2 separate regions of the Homo sapiens genome follow, and region 2 is linked to region 1. Evidence: fine-mapped expression QTL. Tissue or cell type: whole blood. Region 1 holds a variant in brackets; the other region holds the start of a gene. All regions are shown on one strand. Distances are from middle to middle.

Evidence for each region. PIP is the estimated chance that this variant, and not a neighbour inherited with it, causes the effect.
Region 2: it holds the start of USP9X, and the variant in region 1 is fine-mapped to the expression of USP9X in whole blood (TOPMed, PIP above 0.99).

Annotation. Positions count from the first base shown.
Region 1 is chrX:41,005,821-41,014,013 of GRCh38, reverse strand. No RefSeq gene overlaps it. Among named protein-coding and RNA genes, the nearest start is that of USP9X, 76 kb to the left of the region's middle. The variant G/A (reference allele first, on the strand shown) is at 3,634.
Region 2 is chrX:41,081,707-41,089,866 of GRCh38, reverse strand. USP9X (ubiquitin specific peptidase 9 X-linked) reads right to left here and starts at 4,422. Exons shown (of 45, transcript NM_001039591.3): 1 at 3,758-4,422. RefSeq lists silencers at 3,228-3,687, 4,388-4,767, 5,198-5,267 and enhancers at 3,812-4,349, 4,888-5,427, 5,177-5,471.

The sequences.
Region 1 (8,193 bases):
GATTACAAGCATGTGCCACCATGCCTGGCTAATTTTTTTTTTTTTTTTGTATTTTTAGTAGACATGGAGTTACGCCATGTTGGCCAGGCTAAACTTGGCCTCCCAAAGTGCTGGGACTACACTGTGCCTGGCCTTTATTTTTCATTTGTTTATTTTTTTAAGAGACGGTGTCTCGTTCTGTGGGCCAGGCTGGAGTGCAGTGGTGCCATCATAGCTCATTGCAGCCTCAAACTCCTGGGCTCATGGAATCCTCTCACCTCTGCCTCCAGAGTAGGTGTGACTACAGGCATGCACACCACATCTGGATATTTTTAAATTTTTTGTAGATACAGGGGTTTCACTATGTTGCCTAGGCTGGTCTTGAACTCCTGAGCTCAACAGATCCTCTTGCCTTGGCCTCCCAGAGCGTTGGGATTACAGGCGTGAAAGGTGTGAACCTTAGCACCAGCCAGAAAATTCTTTTTTTTTTTTTTGAGACAGAGTCTCGCTCTGTCACCAGGCTGAAGTGCAGTGGCACGATCTTGGCTCACTGCAACCTCCACCTCCTGGGTTCAAGCAATTCTCGTGCCTCGGCCTCCTGAGTAGCTGGAATTACAGGCACGCGCCACCACGCCACCACACCTGGCCTGAAAATTCTTTAAAACTGGAAAGGAAAGGCCAAGCGCAGTGGTTCACGCCTGTAATCCCAGCACTTTGGGAGGCCGAGGCGGGCGGATCATGAGGTCAGGAGATCGAGACCATCCTGGCCAACATGGTGAAACCCCGTCTCTACTAAAAATACAAAAAATTAGCCGGGTGTGGTGGCGCGTGCCTGTAGTCCCAGCTACCAGGGAGCCTGAGGTGGGGAATCGCTTGAACCCGGGAGGCAGAGGTTGCAGTGAGCCGAGATCGCGCCACTGCGCTCCAGCCTGGCGACAGAGCAAGCCTCCGTATCGAAAAAAAAAAGAAAAAAAAAAACTGGAAAGGAAATACTTCTGAGTCCAGGCAGACAAAGCCTGGTGGATTGAGGGGCGGCCCCCAAGGGATGTGTTCTCATTCCTAACTCCGGCACCTGTGAATGTGACCTTATCTGGCAAAAGGGTTTTTGCAGGTGTAATTAAGTTAAGGATCTCAAGATGAGGAGATCACCCTGGATCATCTAGGTGGGCCCTAAATTCCAATGACAAGTGTCCTTATTAGGGCACTTATAAACTCATAAAACTTATAAACTGGACACAGTGGCTCACACCTGTAATCCCAGCACTTTGGGTGGCCGAGGCAGGAGGATCACTTGAGCCCAGGAGTTAGAGGTTGCAGTGAGCTATGATCACGCCACTGCACTGCAGCCTGGGTGACAGCGAGACCCTGTCTCAAAAAAAATAAAAATAAAAATAAAAAAGGGAGAGACAGAGAGAGACTTGAGACAGAAGAGAAGATGCAGCTACACAGAGGAGTTGTGACAACAGAGGCAGAGATTGGAGTGATGCGGACATAAGCCAAGGAATGCTAAAGATTGCTGGCAACCATCGGAAGCTAGAAGGAGTACAGCCCTGTGGACACCTTAGTTTTGGATGCCTGGTCTCCACAAGTGCGAGAGGATGCGTTTCTGTGGTTTGAAGCCACCATGTTTGTGGTACTTTGTTACGGCAGCCCTAGAGAACTAGGACTCTGGTAGTAAACCCAGCAAGCTGGAGATAAAACTCCAGGCAGAGCCAAGAGCCAAGAGTTTGGGTCCCTGGGAGTCTCAGGGGGTCCCAGGAGTGGAGACGATCTCTTCTTTGTGAGGATGAGCTGGTGGTTGTCTGGGTTGCACAGTGGTCCCCCTGTGCACTCCTGTGACCAGTGGCCGAGGAGGAATCTGCGGGCTCAGGACTGGCTTGAGAACATTTCATACTCTTGGCCACTGTCAGCATTAGTGCTGCAGGGATGGGTGGATGATCTAGACACAAGTGAGAGTGAGAAGACTTTTAAAAAGCAGCCAAGGAGAAAGCAATCTGTATTTGCTTGGTGGAAATAAAATTCTACTGCACTGTGAGCCAGGCTTATTAATGCAGAGTAGGGAAAAGAAATTGGCAAAGCCAGCCACCTTTTATTTGATAAAGTGACCAGCCACCTGAGGCAGGCATGTTTTAAAGACACTGGGTGAAAACGCTCACTGCGTGAGGGTGGAAGAGGGAGACAAACAAGTATGATTTTGAAAGAACAATGGCATAGAACATTCACATACATACAGACTGCTAGGAAGAAAACGCTGAATTTCAAAATTCTTCTCCACTGGAAACTGTTCTAAGACCTCCTTTCTCTGTTGCAAAGAGAGGAGGCTACAATAAGGAAGAGAAAGGAAAAGATCTTTGATGTATTTATTTATTAACATTAGAGCCTTGACTATTCACCTCAGCATTAACCAGGTAGATATTGTCCTGTTGGTTTTATAATGTTTAAGAATCCTTGAACATCGGTTTGCTCCTGTTCACGTGTAATTTCACATTTAATTTAATTAATGTATCTATTTTGAGATGGGGTCTCACTGTATCACCCAGGCTGGAGTGCAGCGGTGAGATCATTGCTCACTGCAGCCTCAACCTCCTGGGCTCAAGCGATCTTCTCACCTCAGCCCCCAAAATAGTTGGGACTATCAGCTTGCGCCCCACCCCTGGCTAATTTTTATTCTTTTTGAATTTTAGTAGAGACAAGGTCTCCCTTATGTTGCCCAGGCTCAATTTCGTATTTTATATTTAAAGAACTAGATTTCCTAAATAAGAATCACTCCTTTCTCTTTCAAGAGAAGATAGTTACTTAGAGGGTAGACAGGACTGATTATTTTCTTTGGTATGCCCTAAGGAATTATGTAAAACTTGACAGAAAATTTCCAGACTACAAAAATGGCTTCACTACCAATTCCTTCCCCTCTTCCATCTTTTGAGCTTAGAAAAACAAGATAAAGAAGGTTATGTCTTTTCAGTTATTCCTTTCTCATCTATTTCCCCAGTTTGGTCTACACTGAAAGCATACACGATTCTTCCTCCACTGGTTCATTGAATAATCTTCTTTCCTTAGTTCCCACATATCCAATCTATAAATCAAGCACATGAGATATATAGATTCTAAGTATCAGGTGGAATTCTGCCTTACACTCCAGAACATTTTTTTTTTCTTATGCTGTTTTTCATGTAAAGCAGAATCTGTAAGTATCGTAACAGGATTCAGCCAGGGAAACAGAGCCACTGTGAGTATTCTAGGAATAAAACCGTTCACAGCTGTGGGAAGAGCTGGGGAAGTGAATGTCTGGAAGGAGGAGTCAGAAGATCAGAGAGTCACTAGCCGTTGCCGGAAGCACTGGTGCAGTTGGACAAATCAGAGCTTGCAGGAAAATTCCAGAAGCCAAAGCACATCTAGCCACCGAAGCAGGGCCGCGGAGGGGGAGTTCGTGGAGAGGTTTATGGGAGCTGTGGCCTCTACGTAGCTCCCGCCCCATGTGGGGCGACAGCCAAGCCCCTGGTGGTGGGCCCGAGGCAGCTGTTGGGTAGCAGAGCCAACAGCAGGAAATGTTAGCTGGGAGGGAGCAGAGGAGAGAGCCGGATAAACCGGGAGCTGCAGGGCCTCTCAGGGCCCCTCTGTTTCTGTCCTTCACTGTATCTGACGGGAAACCTGCCA[G/A]GGGCAGTGACTGCTGCTCGCCTTCCGCCCTACAATTCTTGCACAAGGTTCTCTTTTGGCCAACTCTAACCCGGAAACACAGCAGGGAGGGGCTTCTAGGAAATGGAGTTCCCAGCCTTAATCGAGTTGCCATAGCACAACTCAGCACCGCATCTCCCAGCGTGATCAATGAAATGACATCACAGGCTCGGTAAAAGCCATTTAAAAATAACTCCTTCATTCTACTGTTCCTCAGCTCAGAAGTCAGGTGCGTGCATAGGTCGCCCTTCGTTAAGATTCTCCACTTACGGAGGTGGTGGACCTGGCAGGGTGTTGTAGGAAGGAGTGGCATGTGCTGAGAAGCTCACAGGATCCTTAGTCCTGGCTGTGACTCACAGGTATTGTGTAGCCTCGGGCAAATCCCTCTCCTCTGTGCCTCTGGTTTGTTCATCTGTAAAATGGGCAGAATTGTACTCAGTTGGCTTTTGCATGGTCCAAATGAGAAAACGGAAGTGAAACCCCCCTGTAAACTGCTAAATGCCAGGATAGTTATAAATTCCTTTTTTTTTTTTTTTTTTTTTTTTTTGCGGGGACGGGGAGGACAGAGTCTCGCTCTGTCGCCCAGGCTGGAGTGCAACGGCACAATCTCGGCTCACTGCAACCTCCGCCTCCCAGGTTTAAGCGATTCTCCTGCCTCAGCCTCCCAAGTAGCTGGGATTACAAGCGCCTGCCACTGTGCCTGGCTAATTTTTGCATTTTTGGTAGAGACGAGGTTTCGCCATGTTGGCCAGGCTGGTCTCAAACTCCTGACCTCAGGTGATCAGCCCGCCTCCGCCTCCCAAAGTGCTGGGATTACAGGTGTTAGCCACCATGCCTGGCCAAATTCCTTTATTTCAAGGAATATTCTTGAGCTTGGCAAAAGTTTGGAGTTTACGTACAAAATACATACTCAAAAGGAATTATGAAGTGAATGAATTCCTGAATAAACATGACTTGGCATCATGGGGAAACAATTTACAGTATTGGTGGGGACATAATTTCAGAGATGGAAGCTGCCAGAAGAGCTTCTTTTCTCCTAAAAGCCCATCCCAGGACCTCACTAGTCCTGATAACCCAGAAGTTTCCCTGCCACTAAAAAGATCTGTTTATTTTCCAGTTAACAAAGAGTGAAGAGGACACTATCATCATCATCATCAACATCATCATCATCATCATTATTATTTGCCTGAAGGCCCAGAGTACACCGTAATGGAGTACTGCTGATGGGAAAGGAATTAGCATTGACCTCTCAGGAGGTTAATTTGGGAGTTTAGCTCATGATCTAGTAATTCTGCTTCTGGAAGTTTATGAGAAGGAAGTGCTCTAATATGTGCGCCTGTGTGATCGCTGGGCTTTAGCATTTTAGGGGTGAGCCAACTGTATCTCAGAGGTGGCCATGTCTTGCATTGAGGAGAGAGAGCACCTGCGAGAACTTCCATGCTATATTCTATTTGGGAAGAACTTGAACCTTGCATAACGTAAACGAAGAGAATTAACAAGAATTTGTGGCACCCCTTCTGTGTCAGTTCTTCTTCCAGATAATAGGAATATAGCAATAAACAAAACAGACCAGGTTCCTGCCCTCATGGGGGAAAGAGGCAATCTAAAAATGAAAAATGGGCCAGGCGCGGTGGCCCACGCCTGTAATCCCAGCACTTTCGGAGGCCAAGGTGGACGGATTACCCAAGGTCAGGAGTTCAAGACCAGCCTGGCCAACATGGCGAAACCCCATCTCTACTAAAAATACAAAAATTAGCTGGGCGTGGTGGCACGTGCCTGTAAGGCCAGCTACTCGGGAGGCTGAGGCAGGAGAATTGCTTGAACCCAGGAGGTGGAGGTTGTAGTGAGCTGAGATTGTGCCATTGCACTCCAGCCTGGACGACAGAGCGAGACTTCATCTCAAAATAAATAAATAAATAAATATAAAGATGAAAAATGTCACCAAATGTCAGATTAAGTACCAAGAGGGAAAATAAAGCAGCGTCAAGGATTAGAGAGTAATATGGGTGCTATTTTTAGATAAGGTGGTCAAGGGGGGGCCTCTTTGAGGAGGTGCCGTTGGGTCAGAGACATGAATGAACAAAGGCAGGAAACTATGCTGATATTTGAAGGCAGAACATTTCAGGAGCGGAGAAAGTAATACACAGGCCGAAGATGAGAAGGAAGTTTACGAACTTCGTTTCTGAGACAAGGTCTCACCCTATCGTCCAGCCTGGAATACAGTGGCATGATCATAGCTCACTGTAACATTGAACTCCTGGGCTCAAGCGACCCTCTCGTCTCAGCCTCCTGAGAATGAACTTCTTTATTCAGGGGACAGCAGGGAGACCAATGTGGCTGGAGCATGGTGAGCAAGCAGGGAGGGTGATAGCAGCTGAGGTTGGAGAGAAAGCCAGGGGACAGATCACACTGGCTTTTGATTTGGGTCAAGTCAGGTGGGAAACCATTGGAAAGTTTTGAAGTGGAACATGACCTTTGCTGGCTTAAATATTGAAAGGCTATCCATGAGGAGTAAATTACAGCTGGGCAAGAGTGGACACAGAGAGACCAATTAAGACCTATTGCAAGTGGTCCATCCAGGAGGCTGTCAGGAGGCTGGACCAGGGCAGGGCAGCAGTGGAGAAGGTGAGAAGTGGTCAGAGGCAATAACACTATAAGAGCAAAGCTGAAGGGATTTGCTACGAGGTCAAATGTGAATTGTAATAGAAAGATGAGAGTCAAGGATGACTTCAAGGTTTTTGGCCTGAGCAAGTGGAAGAATGGAGCCGTTATTTACTAAGAAGGGGGATGCTAGGCAGGAGCAGGTTTGGGAATAATGCAGAATTTAATTATGGACAGATTAAGAATGAGATACAGCCTGGGCAACATGGCGAAACCCCATCTCTACTAAAAATACAAAAAGATTAGCTGGGCATGGTGGTGCGCACCTATAATCCCAGCTACTTGGGAAGCTGAGGCAGGAGCATCGCTTGAGCCCGGGAGGTGGAGGTTGCAGTGAGCCGAGAGTGTGCCACTACACTCCAGCCTGGGCGACCGAGTGAGACCCTGTCTCAAAAAAAAAAGAAAAAAAAGAAAAAGAATGAGATACAGAATAACCATTCAAACTGGGTTATTTAGGTTCTATCCAATACTTTTGTATTTTTAGTGGAGCAATTGGGCACATGAGTCTGGAGGTCAGGACAGAAAATACAAATTTGAGACTCATTAGTGTATAGAGGGTATTTAAAGCCGTTAGACTGGGTGAGCTCATGCAGGAGTGAGCAATAATAGAGAAGAGATCTAAAGTCTGCATACTGGGACACCCTGATGCTGAGAGGTCAGGATGAAGAGAATGAGCCAGTGAGTGAGGAAGAAAACCAGGAGAATGTAGCGTTCTCGAAGCTAAATGAAGAAGATGTTTTAAGGAGGAAGCTGCTGCCTGGGATTTGGGAGGGATTAAATAATAAGCAGGAGGGGCTGGGCGCAGTGGCTCATGCCTGTAATCCCAGCACTTTGGGAGGTTGAGGCAGGTGGATCACCTGAGGTCAGGAGTTCGAGACCAGCCTGGCCAACATGGCAAAACCCCATCTCTATAAAAAATACAAAAATTAGCTAGGCAAGGTGGAGTGCGTCTGTGATCCCAGCTACTTGGGAGGCTGGGGCAGGAGAATCGCCTGAACCTGGGAGGCGGAGGTTGCAGTGAGCCAAGATTGTGCCACTGCACTGCAGCCTGGGTGACAAAACGAAACTCTGTCTCAATAAAAATAAAAAATAAAAATAAGCAGGAGGCATTTGGAATTTTCAGGGCTGCTTGAGTGAGAAGATAAAGAGTTTAGGTACAAAGGCTGGGCATGGTGGCTTACGTCTGTAATCCTAGCACATTGTGAGGCAGAGGCAGGAGGATGGTTTGAGGCCAGGAGTTTGAGACCAGCCTGGGAGACCCTTATTTTTAAATTAAATTTTTTTTTTTTTTGGAGACAGAGTCTCGCTCTGTCGCCCAGGCTGGAGTGCAGTGGCACAATCTCGGCTCACTGCAAGCTCCGCCTCCCAGGTTCACGCCATTCTCCTGCCTCAGCCTCCCGAGTAGCTGGGACTACAGGCGCCTCCACGCCCAGCTAATTTTTTGTATTTTTAGTAGAGATGGGGTTTCACCATGTTAGCCATGATCTCCTGACCTCGTGATCTGCCCGCCTCCCAAAGTGCTGGGATTACAGGCGTGAGCCACTGCGCCCGGCCAATTTTTTTTTTTTTTTTAATTAGCCAGGCGTGGTCATGCATGCCTGTAGTCCCAGCTACCAAGGAGGCTAAGGTGGGAGGATCACTTGAGCCCAGGAGTTCGAGGCTGCAGTGAGCTATGATTGAGCCACTGCACTCCAGCCTGGGAGATGGAGTGAGATTCTGTCTCAAAAAAGAAAAAAAAGAGTTTAGGTACACAGAAAGGAGAGAAGATATAAAAAGGTCAGGGGGTCAGTAAAGAGAGCAGAAGGCAGAAGGTCCCAGGAGCATGGCAGGATCCATAAAGGAATGCCATCCATGAGAAGTCCCCAGGTGGTGGAGAATGGC
Region 2 (8,160 bases), 76 kb before region 1:
GCCATGCCCCCACCATGCAGAATTTGGTCCAATGGACCAAGGGGATTAAGAGACAGAAACTCCAAATAAATGTCTGTTATTGTTATTTCATTCGTTCCATAAAACAATTATACATCAATCCCAAAACAACACAAAATTCAAAACGCTTAATCAAAATCAAACTGATTTTGACTAAGACAAATAAAACTCTAAATTCTCAAACTGAGATAACAGAATTTCATGTGACACTAAACGGTAATTTGTGGGATCATTTAAATAAATTACTAGGAGACAAATGCATAGTTTCTACACCTTTTAGGAATGTTGTGTAATATTTTGTCATAAACGCACCAACTAAACTATCACCCTGAGCACGCTGGAAGATATATGGAAGGGGAGAAACCTATTTGCCACATAGCTTTTAACATCTCCCTTGGGCAACCAAGATATTTATCAAATTGGAGACTATCTTGATAGTCTTAAAAACTAAACTATATCTTAACTTACTCTGGTACGAGAAACAAACCAAAAGCTCTAAATGCTTTTTTAAAAATAGCAATCAGTGTCATTTCACTAACATAGCACAGTAGTCGAAGCACCACTGGTTGAACCTGACAGACCTCAGACCCATCGTAAGGCAATAAATGGAAAATGCTTAACAGTGCTGACAGACAATTAATGCTCAAATGATAATCATGCTAATAACTGAAAACAATTGAGAAAAAAATCCATTTTCTTATTTATCCACTTGAAAGTTCTAACAACATGATAAAAACAATAGCCCAGTGGTTTTCAACTCCAAATGCATGTAAGAATCATCCACAATGCTTTTAAAATATACCTTTGCCCAGGCTCCCTATCAGACCAATTAATCAGTCTCTGGGGGTGGAACCCAGGGATCAGTTTTTTTGTTGTGGTTGTTTTTTAACCCCGCCAAGTGATTCTCATGTCCAGTCAGGGTTGAGGTCCAATGCACTAACTCTTTCCCAAATATTAACGTTAAACTCTATGTTAAAATAATACAAGAACTTAGCAATACACAGGATGGCTTTCAAAAACACAGCTCCTAAAAGAACCAAATGACAACTAAAATCCGGTTTTTTCCCTTTTTGAAAAAAAAAAGAAAAACAATTCAAGACTCAGAAAACATACCTACAAGAGGGGAAACATAATGTAGGCTACCATAAAAAGTAATACGTTCTTTCAGAATAAAAATCAACTAACTCAATCTCAGGATAAGACCCCCCTCACCTTCACTGCCCAAAAGACTTAGAAGAACACTAATCCATTAACACACACTGCTAGATATTTCAAATAACTAATTCTTAACATCTGTTTTAAACAAAGATTGGTTTTAATACTAAAATTTTGAAACTAAAACGTTAGAAATTGATCTTATTAAATAAAAATAAGCTCAAAGACACTTGTTGTGTGACCAACTAATCAAGAACTGGATGATTAGCAAATTCATGACAAACATCCATTTCAAAACCATAAGCTGCATTATTACCACCATGTCAAAGAAAAATCTCTGAGAAGATAGCAAAGAAATCTCATACCTTAAGATATTAAAAACAAGACTCTGGAAGAAAAAAGATCTAAAGTAAATCCTACTTGAGCATTCCATAGATAAAACATGAGAACTGGGAGGTCGACACGGGCGGATCACGAGGTCAGGAGATCGAGGCCATCCTGGCTAACACGGTGAAACCCCGTCTCTACTAAAAATACAAAAAATTAGCCGGGCGTGATGGCACGCGCCTGTAGTCCCAGCTACCAGGGAGGCTGAGGCAGGAGAATCCCTTGAACCCGGGAGGTGGACGTTGCAGTGAGCCGAGATCGTGCCACTGCACTCCAGCCTGGGCGACAGACAAAAAAACAAACAAACAAAACCATGAGAACTATGGACTATGGAACACCAAACTAGAGACCCCAATAACCTGGTGAAAGGTAAAATCTGCCCTTCAATGTTCCTTCCTGAAGTAACTTAAGATTCTCACATGTACTGTTGCTGGTGCTATTACTCCCTCCAGAAATTCTCAGAAACTACCAAGGTCAGCAAACAAAAGAAACATGAGAACGCTGATAACCAGAATTACAAGTTACATGTTCATGCAAAAAAATACAAGAAAAGGGGTAGAGAGAATTCATATAGTCCAAACGTCCTATTTTTAAATTAGAGAAAATAAAACAGTAAAATACCAAAGACATTTTGAGTTCACCTGTGGAACACCAATTCCAAATACTTCAAGCTTTCACTCCACCCAAAAGCTGGAACGATAAAGTTTAAAGGGTTAAAGTTAGATGTATGACACAGCACATGAGTTTAAAAATTGAGAAAACGAATGTTGACACTTTTTTATATTTAATACATAATTCTTCAAGAATTTGAAGGTATTTGCTGAAACCAAAATGGCAGCCCAGCGAATTAGAAGACGAGCGAGATCTAAAGGAGAGTTTATAGTCTCTATTTTTGAGTTCAAGTGTACTAACCAGCCAAGCTAGTCATGGTTAAGGAGTCCTTACCTAAGGGTAATCAGCTCCGAGAGGGTTAAGTACCTGCTGGAAAGTTTCCTAATCAATGCACCCCAAATCATTCTTCCTCAAAAGTGAAAGTATACAAACGTTAAGTAGATTTAGGGACTCATGGGTTTCCAGGTAAAAGAACAGTACACATACTTCTCTCCCCGAAAAATAAAGCATGAATATTTAATCTATACCTACAACTTGCTTATTTAAACTAAAAGACAATCTGAAGCAATTATATACACCTGTAAACTGCACCGTGTAAATTCAATTAACGTTGTAACTATGGAACTTCCAAAAAATAACATGCTTAATTTAAGCAGGTTCTACTAGAAATTTTGCAAATTCTCGTGTAAGTTCTAGTCGCTACAGAAATCCACACAAATAATTTAAGAAGCCATCTACACACCTGCTGTATAACTCTTTAACTTATTTCACAATGAATGAAAAATCAGCCATTTATCCAACCCTAAGCCTCACGTCACAAGAATCTGAAGACCTGATCACTACCAAACTCGCACATGCTAATATTTGCAGAAACAGTTAAAAATAGAAAGGTAATAGGTCCAAGCTAGCTTGGAAGCGATTTCTGCATTCAAAAACCCCTTTCACGGCTTTGGCCCTCTGCAAATAAAGCGGGGCGAAGGAGGTGTAGGAGGCCGATAACCCAGCTCCCACTCCAGGAGCCCAGGGCCGGGGAGAAACTGCGGGTTATCGCGGGAGGGTGGGGGGAGGCGGACAAGTCGTCAGGCCTGATAGCCAGGCGTAGCCGAGGCCTAGCTCCCCAGCTCCAAATCACTCCACCTCAGTAATGGCGTTTGGTGTCAAGTGGAACCAGACCGGGTAGGAAAGCGGCCGCCGGGCGGGGGGCGGCCAGCCCCCAAACCGACCCGGCCCCCGGGTGCGGACGGCGGGGGGGCTGCCCGCCACGCCCGGAGACTCCATCCTCCTACTCGGCCCCAGACAGGACGGGAAGGGGGAGGAGGGGGAGGGACGGAGCCGTCAGCCATTTTCCCTTACAGTCCAAAACACACAGACACGCTCTCGGGACACCGGCTCCACACACAACACGGGCCCGCGCGCCCGCCCAGCCCGGGCCGGAGGAGGGGGAACGGGGAAGCCCCAGCCTGGCCGGCAGCCGCCGAGGGAAGAGGCTCGCACACACGCACACCCCCCTCGCCCTCCTCCCCTCACCCACATCCAGCTGTTGGCCCCGGGAAAGAGCGTCGCCCCAGTGCAGCTGGCCACTCACCGCACGACACAGACGTCTTCTCACAACCAGGGCACACGGAGGCGGGAGGCACCAGGCGACGGTGGGGCTCGGTCCCGGGACGAGACCTACCCTGGGTGCATCCCAGGCCCGGGGGTGACCGGCAACAAAGTGTATCGAAAGGCTGCGGCGGCCGGGCTCGGGGCTGCGGGCGTCTCAACCAAAAGGCTGCACACCGGCGCCGGAACTCGCTCCTCGCCGCGCCCGCCTCCTCCTCCTCCTTGGCCGGCGACGGCCCTCTTCCCCTTCTCCCCTCAGGCTGGGGCTCTCGCTGAGCTCAGACGGGCTCCGGGCGGTGCGTTTCTCCTGCGTCACCTCCTCCTGCTCCTCCTCCTGCAGCGACGGCTTCACCTTCCCCTAGTCGCCGCCTCTGTCCCCGCTCCAGGCCTGGTGGCTTTGAAGTAGCTCGCTCCTCGCTCCCGGCGCCGACCCAAGCACCGGGCGCTAAGGCGGCCGCCTCCCGTGAGAGAGAGGCGGCGGCGGCGGGCTCCCGCGAGGCCCGGGAGCTGTGTAAGGCGGGGAGGGGCTAGGCGCGACAGAGGCCCTGACGGGGCCGGGTGCGGAGAGGTTGCGGCTCCGGCGGCGGCGGAGACTAGCGTCCGCAGCCGCGGATGCCCGTCCTCGTCAATATGGCGGATCCGGCAAACCAAAAAAAAAAAAACCGCTCGGCCAGTGGCGGCGGCGGTAGCGGCGACGGCGGCAGCAGCGGTGGCGGCGGCGGCGGCGGCGCAGACTCCCACTAGCCCCAGAGCCGCCCAAGACCCGAAGTTCTCCGCCCCCGTCAGGGCCCGCCCCTTTCAGGCCCCTCCTTTCGGCCCTCCCCCTGCTCCTGCCCAGCCCCCTCCCGCTCAGCTGCCCCCTCTTCTCTCCCTCCACCCCGGGCCGTCAAGGCTGGGAGAGCAGCGCGAGCCGCTGAGGGGGCCGGGCTTCGGCGCGAGCCGCCGGGAACCCGGAGAGCTAGGGTGGGGGAGGGGAAGACAATGCGGTAAAGATTGTTCGCGCAGTACTGTTTCTTCCGGCTGGCCCCTTCAGGGTCGTGCTACGGCCAGAAATCCTGTTCCATGCCCCTCGGCTCAGGAGCGGGACGAGGGCAGAGGTGGCTCTAGGACCGAAGTTGGGGAAGGGAGGCCCGAAAAGATCTGGCACACCACTCGGGAGGGGCTGGGCGGCAGGGACTGGCGGGGTGTGTGGCCACGACAGGGTTAATCGCGTGAGCCGCAGCCGCGTCGCTCATAGTTTGACTCGGGCCGCTTGTTTTTGTTCCATTGTGAACCGTAGCCCCGCCGACAAGAACCCGGATGATGACGTCACCGGCCTCCCCCTTTTCCGGGACCGTGGGGGGAGGGGCGCGGAAAGATGAGATCTCGAGACCACGCGCTGGGCGGTCGCCGCCGCGGTGCCTGGAGGTCCCGGCGGTGCAGCTGACCCGCGTCACGTGACGCACGAGCTGGCCGGGCCACTGGCTGCGGGGGCGCGAGGTCCCGAGGGCCTGGCCACCTGCTTGGCGCCGATAGGGGGAAGGTGTGGCTATCTCCCGCAGCGGAAGGAGGGGGCGTGGGGAGTGAGGTCCTTTTCCCCACCCCGCGAGGGAGGTGCTCTGAGAAACTCTTTCACACGATCATGCATCATCACTACCTCAAAGCGTTTAGGCGTCCTCAAAGCGTTTAGGCGTCCTCACAGCCTAGCTGACGGGACTGACCACCTTTTTGGCCATAGGAGCCCTTCAAACAGACCAGCAAAGAAAAAAATTATAAAGTGCCCCAGACGGCTTAGCGAATAGGCCGTACTTGATGTGGCAAGATTAGCCTCCATTGCCAGATCATCAGCACAATTCGGTGTTAGGACCCGGAAGAAACTTATGAACCCATCCGCTGTGTCATGGACTATTTTCTACATGTTTATATTCCAAAGTGCGGGCATAGGAAAAACTTAGGCTAATCTCAAATTAATGGGGTGCTTGGAACAAATCTGTACAGTCTACCTAGGATGCCCAAATGAAGAGGAAATTAACAGTTCCTAATTTACAGATTTCCTTTTGACTTAAAAAATACCTGTGGACATCAAATGGCATGCAAAATCATAGTAAAACCCTACAAACCGAGATCTATTTTATAGAGAAGAGGGTTGAATTTAGTTATGCTATGATTATATCAGTTTGTAATAAAAGACTGTTAAAAATGGAACCAAACTAATGTAGGTGACAGTGAAAGCAAGTTATTGGTATCTTAAATTTTTAAACCATTTCTCTATTTAGCACAAGATTGTTTACAAATTTTTCACCACAAATTATCTAATAGGGTATCCAAGATGTATCATTCATAGCCCTAATAACTCTTAGCATATGTTACCTTGTTTTTATAATTATTTCCATGAATCATTTGCTTCCCCACTAGCTCATGGGCTTCTAAAAAGCAGACACGACCACCCGCGTACACTATAGGCTGTTATTTTCTATTTTAGATAAGGAAACAGAAAGGGTAAATGATTTGCCCGAAGTCAGGATTGGAAAGTGTTGAACACTGGTCTTTTAACCCTATCAAAAGTGCACCTTTAACAAGGATGTCCCCTCTCACCAATTCTGTTCAATATTGTACTTGCAGTTCTAGCCTGAAAAAGAAATGAAAGGCATCCAGATAAGAAAGGAACAATTAAACTATCGCTACTTTCACATGACATGATTTTATATATAGAAAATCTTGGGAAATCCATTATAAAAAAAATAAAGCCAATAAGCAAGTTCAGCAAAACTGCAGGATATAAGATCAATATTTAAACATCAGTTATAGTTTTACACACTAGCAATAAACAATCTGAAAATTAAGTTAAAATTCCATTTACAATAGCATCAAAATCAATAAAGTTAAAAATCGATTTAACAAAAGAAATGCAAGATTTGTACATTGAAAACTACAGAACATCATTGAAAAACATTCAAGACTGAAATAAAAGTATTAAGATAGCAATACTCCTCAAATTGATCTACAGAGTCAATGCAATCCCTATCAAAATCCCAGCAGGCTTTTTTTTTTTTTGCAGAAATGGACAAGATGATGCTAAAATTCATACAGATAAGGAGTTTCCCCCCCACCTCGCCACTAGCCAAAACAATCTTGAAAAAGGAGAACAATGTTGGGAGGGCTCCTACTTCCTGATTTCAAAACTCACTATGAAACTGTACTGCGTAAGGACAGGTATATATGCCAATGGGATAGAATAAGGAGCTCATAAATAACCCTTAACATATATGATCAACTGATTTTCCACGAGGGTGCCATGACCATTCAATGAGGGAAAGGATAGTCTTTGCAATAAATGGTGCTGGGAAAACTGGATATATATATATATATATATGCAAAAAAATGGAGTTGGATCTTTTCCTCACATAACATACAAAAATTAACTGAAAATGAATCAAAAACCTAACCATAAGAGGTAAAACTATAAAACTCTTAGAAGAAAACGTGACAGGGAAGTTTCACAACATTGGATTTGGCAATAATTTCTTGGATATGACAATAGCACAGGTGGAAAAAATAGACAAATTGGAGTTCAACAAAATTAAAAACTTTTGTGCATCAAAAGACACTATCAACAGAGTGAAAAGGCAACCTACAGAATGGGAGAAAATATTTGCAAATAATATATTTGATATGGCATTAATATCCAGAACATATAAAAAACTCCTACAACTCAACTCAGCAAAACAAAAAACCCAAGTCAAAAATGGGCAAAGGACTTGCAGAGCCATTTCTTCAAAGAATATATGTAAATATCCAATAAGCACATGAAAAGACACTTAACATCATAGTCATTAGAGAAATGCAAATCAAAACCACAATGAGATACCACTTCACACCCATTAGAAAGGCTATTAACCAAAAAAATAATAATAATACAGTGTCCGGCCAGGATGTGGAGAAATTGGAACCCTCCTACATTGCTGGCATGAATGTAAAATGGTGCAGCTGCTGTGGAAAACAACATGGCAGTTTCTCAAAAAGCATAAAATTACCATATGACCCAGCAATTCCACTCCTAGGTATATACCCCAAAGAAGGGAAAACAGGGACTGTAACAGACACTTGAACACCACCGTTCATAGCAGCATTATTCACAATAGCCAAAATGTGGAAACAACCCAAATGTCCATCAACAAATGAATGGATAAACAAAATTTGGTGTATACACACAATGAAATATTATTCAGCCTTAGAAAGGAATGAAACTCTGATACATGCTACAACATGGATGAACCTTGAAAACATTATGCTAAGTGAAAGAAGCCAGACACAAAGGCCACATATGGTATGGTTCCACTTATATGAGGTACCTAAAGTAGTCAAACTCATAGAGACAGAAAGTAGAATAGAGGCTACCAGGGGCTA